Regions from separate parts of the Homo sapiens genome. Here region 2 is linked to region 1. Evidence: fine-mapped expression QTL. A gene starts in region 1. The other region holds a variant in brackets. All regions are shown on one strand. Distances are between the middles of the regions.

Region 1 (5,247 bases):
GGGACAGTGTAGGGAGCCGCCAACATGCATTCCCTGGGTGGGTTCTTGGGGAGAGAAAGGGGGCCCACACCTGCCCAGGGACAGTGTAGCAGCCACCAGATCACACCTGCCCGGGGGGCTGGAGGGAGGCCGGGTGAGCTGGAGGACCAGGCAGGAGATGCCAAGAGTGTGAACAGGGTATCTCGAGCTCTAGGAGTGGGGTCTTTGGGGTGCAGACTGCCCTGGAAACCCCACGGAAGCCGCTATGAGAGCCGCAGGCACGCGTGGCTACTTGCGTTTATTACCCTCAAGCAGCGCTGAAAATCCTGCCCCCCGGTTGCACAGGCCACGCTTTGGGGGCTCGGCAGCCTCCTGTGGCTGCTGGCTCCTGTGCCAGGCAGCAAAGATGGAGGCGATTCTACAGGATGGTGCCCGTCAGGACCCTTCCCCCGGGAAAATCCCAAGCAGCACGGAAAACGCGGTCACTGCATGAGGAGCCTCTGGCCTTCCACTCCCACCCTCCAGAGCCTGGGCCTTGGGTTTATACACCACCACTGTGGCCCCAGGGCGCTTCCCCTGGACACTGTGGACATTAGGGCCGGATCGTTCTCTGGGGTGGGGCCGTCCTGGGCACTACAGGGAATTGAGCAGCGTCCCTGGCCTCCACCCACTCCATGCCAGGAGCACCCGTGGTCGTGACAACCACAGATGTCCCCAGACATCACCCAGCGTCCCCTCGGTTGACAACAATGGCTCTAAGTAAAAAAATCGTAACTCTGGGGCAAAATGGGACCTGAGGCCAAAGTCTGGTTCCATCTCCAGAGATGGGCTCCCCAAGGGCTGGCAGAAGCTGGGGGTCCCCGCGCCTCAGGTTGAGCCTGAGATGTGACGAGAGGGACCAATCCAAGAGAATCCGGGCTGGGAACTAAGGGGGCCAGGAGAACAAGCGGACGGGACTCCTTCACAGGGAAGGCCAGGCCTTGACTTCCAGGGACCTGAGGGGCCAGGCTGAAAAGAAGAAAAACCAGGGACCAGGTTCTGGAATGTCAGGGACAGCTATAGCCAGGCAAAGACAAGGGGATGTGGAATGGTCTAGACACTGGGGTCAGGGCCACGACGGGAGGGGGCGAGGCTGTTGAGTGGGAGACTTGCAGAATGCAAGGGCAAGGGGGTGCGAATTTGGAAAGGGAAGAGGAAATCCTGGAAAGATGGAACAAGTGGGGTTCTGGGAAGTGGGTGTGAGGAGGCTGAGCTGAGGGCGTGGGTATGCATCAAAGGCGGGACAGAAAGGGGGTCAAAGGGAACCCCAGGCGAGTGGACTGAACTGGGGACGTGGGAGGAGACCAGGGAAGCTGGGCTAGCAGATTCTGAAACATGACTCACGAACTGGGACCAGAGAGCGTCAGGGGTCTGGGGACAAATGTGCCCTTGACGTGGGGGCCGGTGACTAGAGCGAGAAAATTCAGGGGAGTTGAATTTGGGCACTGGACAAAATGCACTTGGCACCCAGGGCCGTGGGAGGGGGTGGGGAATGCTGGACCACCGCGTCGGGTGGCTCAGCCTGGCAGAAATCAGTGCAGGGACCTTTAACTCCAAACGCAGTCAGCTAAAGGCGAGAGGCCTGGGAACACGGACGTGACCCAGTGAATCCAGAGACCAACCAGATGGTCTCCAGAACAGGACCCTGGGAGCTGGAGGTCAGGACGGGAGCGTCTGCTCAAGTGAGCCCGGACCAGGAAGCCTAAGGGGCGGAGGGGGCCCAGGAGGGAGAAACTCGGCAAGGCAGGCAGACGCCGGCCCAGCTGGGGACAGGAGAGAGGGGACTTAGGGCTCCAGGGACGCGGGACGCTTGGCCCGGCCATGGGTTCCGGGGCAGGGAGACCTAGGCAGGGGCCGGGGGCTGTGGGAGCGAGCGCGGGGGGTCCCTGGGCGCTAGGCAAGGAGAGCAGGGATTCCAGGGCGCCCGGGGGTCCAGGGCGGCAGGGCTCTGCCTCGCCTGGGGCCTGAGCATGGGTCGGGCAGCCCAGGCCGGAGCTAGGGATCGGCCTGGGGATCGCCGGGCCGGAGTGGCGTGGCCGGGGAGCCCGGGGAGCCCCGAGGGTGGGCCGGGGACACGCACCGTAGGGCTGGCCCTGCAGGTCGTACTGCTGCATGCGGTACACGGTGAACTCGTGCGCGGCGTCGGCGGCAGGCAGCGGCGGCGCCACCAGCAGCAGCACAGCGGGCAGGAAGACGATGAAGCCGAGCGGCAGACAAGACGCCTTCAGCATGTTCTCCAGCACCTCGCCCGCTTCCTCCAGCATCCTGGCCGGCGGCGGGGCCGCGCGGGGCGGCAGCTGGGACGGGACGGCGGCGGCGGCGGCTCCCGCGGACTCACCTCGGCATGGGTAGCCGCCGGGGTCCTGCGGGCGCCGCGCGGGGCAGCCCGCACTCGCCCTGAGGTCCTGTGGGCACCGCGGCGAACCGCCCCGCCAGCCGCGCTGCCTGTCGGGAATTGTAGTCCGTCCGTCCGGCGCTCGCGGAGCCCTGTGGGAGTTGTAGGCCCACTCTGGAACTCCCGGAAGGTGCGGCAGGCTGTTCGGCTAATACCGTTGAGGTTTCACATAAACTCCAAGTCATAAAATGCAATAAAATGCTTTAAAAAACTATTTCGCGATATCACTTTCTTAACCTTGTCTTTGGCGTTGGGGGAGCTAGGGTGAGGGGCGAAAGGTGGGGACAGGACGTGACCTTGCGACCTGGAAGGAAGTTGGGGATAAAGAGAAAAGGAAGTGCCTGCCTGGCGCGCTAGGTCTTCTGGGAGTTGTAGTCCCGTCAAACACACAAAGGGTCACGGGAACTGTAGTCGTCCTGGCAGAAATTGCTGAGAAAAACAAAAATCACTTAAAACTCCCGAGGATGTAGATGTCAAACTCCACGAAGGCAAAAACTTTTGTCTGTTTTGTGCATATGATGTATCCCCGGCATCTAGCACAAGACCTGGCGCACGGCGGGTGGCCTATACCATTTTTGAATGAATGAATGAAAAATAGAAAGTCATGATAGTCAGTTCCTAAGGGAGGCCGCAGTGGGTTGTGGGACTTGTAGTCTGGAACCTGCGGTTTGTGCAGGGGTCGGTGGCAGGTATTTATATTTATCTTTATTCATATTTGGGGCATACTTATACTAAAAAAGTATTTGTTGTTCATCAGAAATTTAAAGTTAAAACCCAGTGTCTCAGGGCTGGAGGTACCTAAGGAACGTCCCTTTGTACAGATGGGGAGACTGAGCCCCAGGGTGCAGCAGACAGTAGCCCTGGCTCTCAGCACGTTATCATCCCAGGCTCCGTACAGCTGCCTAAGGAGTCAGGGCTTCCTTTCTGTCCCAAGTGAGAAGTGGCATTGGTGCCGATTAAGAGCCTGGGCTCAAATCCCAACTCCTCCATTTCCCAGCTGTGTGGCTTTGGGCAAGTCGCTTCACCTCTCAGAGTCTCAGTTTCCTCAGATATAATGATAAAGAATCAAGCACTCTCCCTGCCAGCAGCATGTGAGAATTCTGTTTGTTTGTTTGTTTGTTTGTTTGTTTTTGAGATGTAGTCTCTGTCACCTAGGCTGGAGTGCAGTGGCTTGATCTCAGCTCACCGCAACCTCCACCTCCTGGGTTCAAGCAATTCCTGTGTCTCAGCCTCCTGAGTAGCTGTAAATTACAGGCGTGAGCTACCGCGCCCGGCTAGAAAGGGAGTTTCTGAGTGTGCTGCTGGGTCACTGAGCACCTACTGTGTGCCAGCCGTGTGGTGGGTGCTGGGGACACAGCCGGGACCCCAGCAAAGCCACACTATCCACCGACACGGAGCTCGAAGTCCAAAGGAGGAGGTGGATTGTGTGACCAGGGGTGATGGGAGCTGGGATAGAGGACACAAAGGCAGCTGGGAGAAGCCCAGAGGAGGCCTAGGGAGGAGAGGAAATCAGAGGAGGCTTCCTGGAGGAGGTGACACTTAAGCTGAAACTCAAAAGATGAGCCAGAGCAGATGAGTGAAGAAAGAGGGAAAGTTGTGCCCAGTATAAAGCAGAGCTGTCATGCAGGGAACACAGGCAGCTGTGGGAGCCTAGAGGAGACCTAGGGAGGAGGAGAAATCAAAGAAGACTTCCTGGAGGAGGTGACGCTAAAACTAAGGTACAAAGAATGAGCAGGCAGAAGTCAAGTGACGAAGGAGGGAAGGTGCGGGCTAACAAGGCCCCTTTATCAGGGACAACAAAGGAGGTTAAGCGAGAAGCCCCCAGAAGGGAAGGACCAAGAAATAATTCAGCTCAGCCAAAGCAGGGCAGAGGGGGCAACAGGGTCAGCCAACACGGGCCCAGAAGGCAGACAGAGAGCTCCAGGCCTGCCCAGACTCCACTTATCCCAAATTCCACCAACACCCCACCCTGCCTGCTGTGGTCCCCACTAAACACACAGAGAACAGGAATCAGGAAAAGATAAGAACTACCCTAGCTTATCATGCCTGCAGAGGGGTGTTTGGGACTTCACTGGTGAAGTGGCTGGCCACAGTTCCATCTGTCTGCAATTGGCCAGCCACAGTAGCTCATGCCTGTAGTCCCAACACTTTGGGAGGCTGAGGCAGGAGGATCACTTGAGCCCAGGAGATTGAGACCAGCCTGGGAAACATAGCAAGACCCTGTCTCTCTCTCTCTCTCTCTTTTTTTTTTTTTTTTTTTTTTGAGACGGAGTCTTGCTCTGTCACCCAGATTGGAGTGCAGTGGCACGAACTCAGTCCACTGCAACCTCGGCCTCCCGGGTTCAAGCAATTCTCCTGCCTCAGCCTCCCAAGTAGCTGGGATTACAGGCATGCACCACTACGCCTGGCTAATTTTGTATTTTTAGTAGAGACGGGGTTTCTCCATGTTGGCCAGGCTGGTCTCAAACTCCTGACCTAAGGTGATCCACCTGCCTCGGCCTCCCAAAGTGCTGGAATTACAGGGGTGAGCCACAGCACCCAGCCCCGTCTCTACAAAAAATATAAAAATTAGCCAGGTGTGGTGGTGTGCACCTGTAATTGCAGCTACTCGGAAACCCAAGGCAGAAGGATCACTTGAGCCCAAGAGATCGAGGCTGCAGTGAGCTATGATCACACCACTGCACTCCAGCCTGGGTGACAGAGCAAGACCCTGTCTCTAAAATATAAAAGAAAATAAAGAACTGTCCCATCAAAATCTACATGATCACATCCTAACCCCCAGGACCTCAGCATAGGATGTTATTTGGAAAATGGTTGTGGCAGATGGCATTAGT
Region 2 (5,380 bases), 20 kb before region 1:
CCAGGCCCCCACGAAGCAAAGGCTGTCAATGATGACATCAGACCCTGCAGTCGGAGAAGGGGAAGGCTGGGTGATGCAGCTCCCCGAGCCCACTGTCAGGGGGACGGGTCACTGAGACCACATGGGGAACAAAAGGCTCCAGGAGGGCTGGAATCCCAGAACCCCAGGGCTGGCACTGCCCTCCTCCAGGCAAGAAGGAGCAGAGATAAATAACCATGTCCACGCCACCATCGGGGAGCGGGAGGGGACGTCCTAGGACAGACACGGAGCAGGGAGCAGGTCAGGCCTGCAGTCCAGGCCCCTTGCGGCAGGAGGCGGTGGGCGGAGGCCGCGCGCGATCGGGCAGGGGGTCCCGGCGTCTCCTCTTTAATCGTGCATGTGTGCTTACACCAGACCGAGGGCGGCCGGCTCCCAGGACTGGGGGGCTCGTCCGCAAGTCCGTAGCCTGGCCCCGGGACGTCTCCCAAGCTCTCCTCCAAGGAAGTTCAAAGACAAGGAAAAGAAGAAACAATCCCCCCCCAGTCTCGGAGAGCAACAGAAAAAAGCTCTGTAATTCAGTGTTCCAACCACCGCCGGGGAGGGAGAGGGCCCCTGTCCCTGCAGGGCCGCCCGCGGCGGGGCAGTGTCCACTCACTCGTGCTCGGCCCCAGGGACTGTGGAGCGGCGGGGGCTCCGGCTGTGGGGGTGGCTGTGTCACTGTGTCTTGGCCTTCACGAGCAGCCTCTGGACGGTCTTGTAGAGGAGGCTGAAGTGCTGGGGACACAGCAGGAGGGAGTGAGGATGTGGGCGGGGCCAGAGCCCCAGGTCATGTGACTCTAGGCTGAGCCAGGGGCCAGGATGCACTTGGAGACGCCCAGCCCAGCTCCTCCCGGCGGGCGGCCCCTGCCCCACCTGAGCCTGGGCACTGCTCACCTGGACAGCCACGTAGGCCATGCCGAGGTAGGCAGCAATGCCAACAGCCAGGAGCAGGTCAAAGACGGCCGGCTTGACTCTGTGGAGAAAGCAGGGTCCCTGAGGTCGAGGATGGTGCGCGGCAGTAACATGAACCCCTAGACCCCCGTGGGCCGCAGTCCCCTCGGCTGTAACCCGTAGGGGGTGAAGGGCTCCAGGTCCCGCTGGCCACCACTCACCTGTACGCATTCATCACTTGCTTCAGCTGGTCGTAGAAGACAAACTCTGGGTCCCTGGGGAGAGAGCACTTTCTCAGGGGGCACCACTGCGCCCAGCTAATTCTTAAAAAAGGGTTTGTAGAGATGGAGACTGGGCACGATGGCTCACACCTGCAATCCCAGCACTTTGGGAGGTTGAGGCAGGCGGATCACTTGAAGTCAAGAGTTCAAGACCAACCTGGCCAACACGGTGAAACCCCATCTCTACTAAAAATTAAAAAAAATTAGCCGGGCATGGTGGCGGGTGCCTGTAATCCCAGCTACTCAGGAGACCGAGGTCCGAGAATCACTTGAAGCCGGGAGATGGAGGCTGTAGTGAGACAAGATCACGCCACTGCACTCCAGCCTGGGTGACAGAGGAAGACTCCATCTCAAAGACAAATAAATAAAAACTTTAAAAAGTTTGTAGAGATGGGGTCTTGCTATGTTGCCCAGGTTGGTCTCCAACTCCTGGGTTCAAGCGATTCTTCCGTCCCGGCCTCCTAAGTAGCTGGGATTACAGGTGCCCACTGCCACATCCGCCTAATTTTTGTATTTTTAGTAGGGATGAGGTTTCACTATGTTGGCCAGTCTGGTCTTGAACTCCTGACCTCAAGTGATCCACCTGCCTCGGATTCCCAAAGTACTGGGATTGCAGGCACAGCCGCCGTGTCCGGCCCTCATCCCACCCTCTCTTTGTATTTGCTCCACCTGGCATCCCCCAGGGGTGAGGGGGTGGGAGATGCAGTAGGGGGAGGTCCCCCTCGGCCCCAGGCTGAACGGGGCCAGCGCGGAGCCCCAGCCTCACCGCTTGTCAGCCTTGACGTGGTGCTGCTTCACGTCCTTCAGGTAGCGGCTCAGGTGGTGCTCCAGCGTGCTGAGGAAGGTGCTGTCCTTGTCCACCAGCTGCGCGGCCCGCGGCTGGTTGGTGAGCCAGTCCATCACCGAGTCCAGCTGCTCCTGCTGGATCTGCTGTAGGGACGGTGGTGGTAGTCATGGCCTGGCCCCGCCCACCCACCCACCCACTGGCCTGGCCCCCTTACCATCTGCTCTGTGAACACCGGCATGTCTGGGGGTGTCCCCTGCGGAGAGAGGAGGGGATGGCCCTGAGTCCAGGCCCCTGCAGTGGGGCTGGGGCCAGGGGTGGGGCCGGGGCCGGGG[G/CCGGGGG]CAGGGCTGGGGCTGGGTCTGGCGGCACAGAGGGCTCAGGGCTCACCTTCTCTGTCAGGTTGTAGATGACTCGAGTCAGGGCCTCTGCAATGATCCTCGTGTTACGGGTCAGGGTCTTAGAATCCACCCGGGACCTTCACGATTCAAAAACAATGTTTTAAAATGTGGACTTTGGGCCAGGCAAGGTAGCTCTCACACTTGTAATCCCAGCACTCCAGCCTAGGAGACCGTGAGACTCTGTCTTTAAAAAAAAAAAAAAATTAAGCTTAGCTTTAACTACTTGGCTAACATGTAGATGCAGATTCACTGGGGGCCCCACACCTCCAGGCCCCTTGCCCTGACCCGTCCCTGTGCGCAGGTAAGGCTCACGCCCTGAGGCCTTGGTTCCTTCTGACTCGGTTTTCTGCTCTTCCAGAATTTAAACTGGACTATTCCGTCCTGGTGGAAGAATCCATTCTGGGACCCTCTGCAAATCCCAGGTGGCCCTCCTGGGCTGACCCCTGGTGGTCTTGAGAGAGCTCAGCACAGCTGGGACAGCCGTGCACCCACCCTCATTTCCTGGCAATCTTTCCTGGCTGGTGGGCGACCGCCACCTCCATCCTTTCCAGGACTGCGATTACCCAGGGATGTGCCCCTCCCTCCCGCCACTGGCTTCTGCAGGCCTCCGATGGCTGAGCTCAAACCACTCCTGAGGGCCCAGTGACCGCAGAGCAGAGTGGATGAACGGGAAGGATCTATGCCGGGACTGCGGGCGCTGGGGGAGGAGACGGCGCCCACCTGCTGGTGCCAGGACTGGCCAGGAGTGTGCCTGGGGTGGCCAGACAGTTCCAGGCTCCACAAAAGCCTGCCCAGGGGCTCACATGATGGCAGAGAGACGGGCAGGACACAGGGTCAGAGGACATAAGAAGCCAGAGACACAGTGCCCAGAGGGAGGCGGGGCGAGGAAGGGCCGGGGTGTGGTGGCGGGCCAGGCTCCCCAAGACGGTGGCCGGGGCCAGGCAGGACTTTCGGGCTGTGGCAGGGCCCTGAAGAGGCCCAGAGGCAGGAGCTGCTTGCTCCTAACTCAACAGGTGACGGGGTCTGGGGGTCCTATATGGGGCCACGACCTCAGGCTGCTGGCCTCGCCCTCCCTAGCCCCAGTAAGGAAGAGCTTGCGAACGGCCTGACCGTGCAGCCGGCCTTGGCCACGCACCGGCCCCTTCCTCGCAGCCTGTGTGTGGGGGCCGCTCCCTCCAGGCTCTCATGGCCTCTGCAGTTGCGACCAGTGGCTCAGCCCCCAGGAAAGCCCTAGGAGGGGCCGGGCAGGTGCTGCCGCGCTCACCGCACGTCCATGATGCTGCTGCGCTGGCCGTCACGGTGGCTCTCCAGGTGGGACAGCGTGAAGGCGGGCAGTCGGCGGATGGCGAAGCGCTCGTGCTCCCAGGCCAGCACGTCCTCCGCCAGGTTGATCCGCTTGTGCACCATGGAGAACCGTACCTCAGGGAACTGGTGCGCGGCCACCTGCAGCCGGAGGCGCCATTAGCAGAGGGCAGGCGGGGATGGCGGCCACCCCAGCCCATTCCCCAAATGCTCCAGGGGCCTCCCAGAACCCCCGAGGGTGCAAAATGAGGAGAAATCCACCTGCCCCCGGGGTCCCCCTAAGGCCTGCTGGAGCCCCGGCGGGCAATGAGCAGTGGGTAAGGAGGGACAAGGGGACACTCTGGGACAGGACACCCCAGCCCGGCCCTGACGCAGTGTGCCCCTCAGAGCCCCGGGGTTGGACAGCAAGGACACCCCAGGACAGAACACCCCAGCCCGACCCCGACACAGTGTGGCCCTCAGAGCCTGAGGGGCGGACAGCAAGGACACCCTGGGACAGGATGCCCCAACCCGGCCCCGATGTGTGTGCTCCGCAGAGCTCCGGACCCATCCATGAAAGGGGCACCCACCGTCTCCAGCTCCCGCAGGAAGGCGTGCTGCAGGGTGCCCTCCCGAGGCGGCTTGGACACGTGCAGGTGCAGGCTGCTGCCCCGGCCCACGGTGTCCAGGCACAGCACGAAGGCCACATTGTCCTGAAGCAGGCTGGAGTCTGCAGGACACCGAGAGCTGGCGGGGTGGGTGGGGACCAGGAAGTGGCCCCCGGCCCTCCCTCTGTGCCTCCTGGCTGCCCCCATGGCAACCCCTGGGCCTCCGTGCCTCCCCACGGCACCACCACCGCGGCACCCCCACCCCCACCCGGGGCCGCTCACCTGTGTGGTCCAGGTTGTCTTCCAGCCAGCGCTTGGTTCCCTGGTAGTTAAACTTGCCTCCTCCAGACGCAAAGAACAGGAGGTTGTAGCTGGGAGGGAAGACCCAGTGTTAGCTTTGACGGGCAAGCGCCTGGGGTGGAGGAGGGACCAGGCCAGGTCACAGGTCCCCCAGGAAGGGTATGAAGGTCTCCCCAAAGCAGGAAATCCTGACCAGCCCCTTAGGGCGGGGCATGACCCCTCGGCCCTGTGGACACTGGGGCTGGATGGTTCTCTGAGGTGAGGCTGTCCTGGGCACTTCAGGGTGCTGAGTGGCATCCCTGGCCTCACCCACCCCATACCGGGAGCTTCCCCCAATGACAACTGCAAATCACTCAGTGTCTCCAGGCAGCAGGGCCACCCCACGTTAGACCCCAGCTCTAGAGGCTTCTCTGAGCCCAGGAGGAACCGGGGTGACCGACCAGGCAACAGACACGAGGAGATCAAAAAAATAAAGTCTATTCACTTAAAGAAGAAGAATTCTTTTTTTTTTTTCTTTTGGGACGGAGTTTCGCTCTTTCTGCCCAGGCTGGAGTGCAATGGTGCAGTCTCGGCTCACTGCAACCTCTGCCTCCCGGGTTCAAGCAATTATCCTGCCTGAGCCTCCCAAGTAGCTGGGATTACAGGCATGCAGCACCACACCTGGCTAATTTTGTATTTTTAGTAGAGACAGGGTTTCAACACGTTAGGCAGGTCTCGAACTCCTGACAGGTGATCCACCTGCCGCAGGCTTCCAAAGTGCTGGGATTATAGGCATAAGCCACCCAGGCAGGCCAAAAATTCTAATGGAACACAGCCTTGGCTATT

Evidence for each region. PIP is the estimated chance that this variant, and not a neighbour inherited with it, causes the effect.
Region 2: its variant is the best candidate, but not a certain one, in a credible set for the expression of NCLN in whole blood (INTERVAL, PIP 0.61).

What each region holds. Positions count from the first base shown.
Region 1 is chr19:3,183,066-3,188,312 of GRCh38, reverse strand. It overlaps NCLN (nicalin), which reads right to left and starts at 2,383. Exons shown (of 15, transcript NM_020170.4): 1 at 2,099-2,383. The coding sequence starts at 2,282. RefSeq lists a silencer at 1,897-2,466 and enhancers at 2,977-3,116, 2,423-3,305.
Region 2 is chr19:3,203,002-3,208,381 of GRCh38, reverse strand. NCLN (nicalin) reads right to left here. Exons shown (of 15, transcript NM_020170.4): 7 at 4,538-4,626; 8 at 4,238-4,377; 9 at 3,631-3,809; 10 at 2,356-2,443; 11 at 2,192-2,230; 12 at 1,957-2,120; 13 at 1,131-1,184; 14 at 913-991; 15 at 1-753. The coding sequence ends at 694. Among named protein-coding and RNA genes, the nearest start is that of CELF5, 19 kb to the left of the region's middle. The variant G/CCGGGGG (reference allele first, on the strand shown) is at 2,310.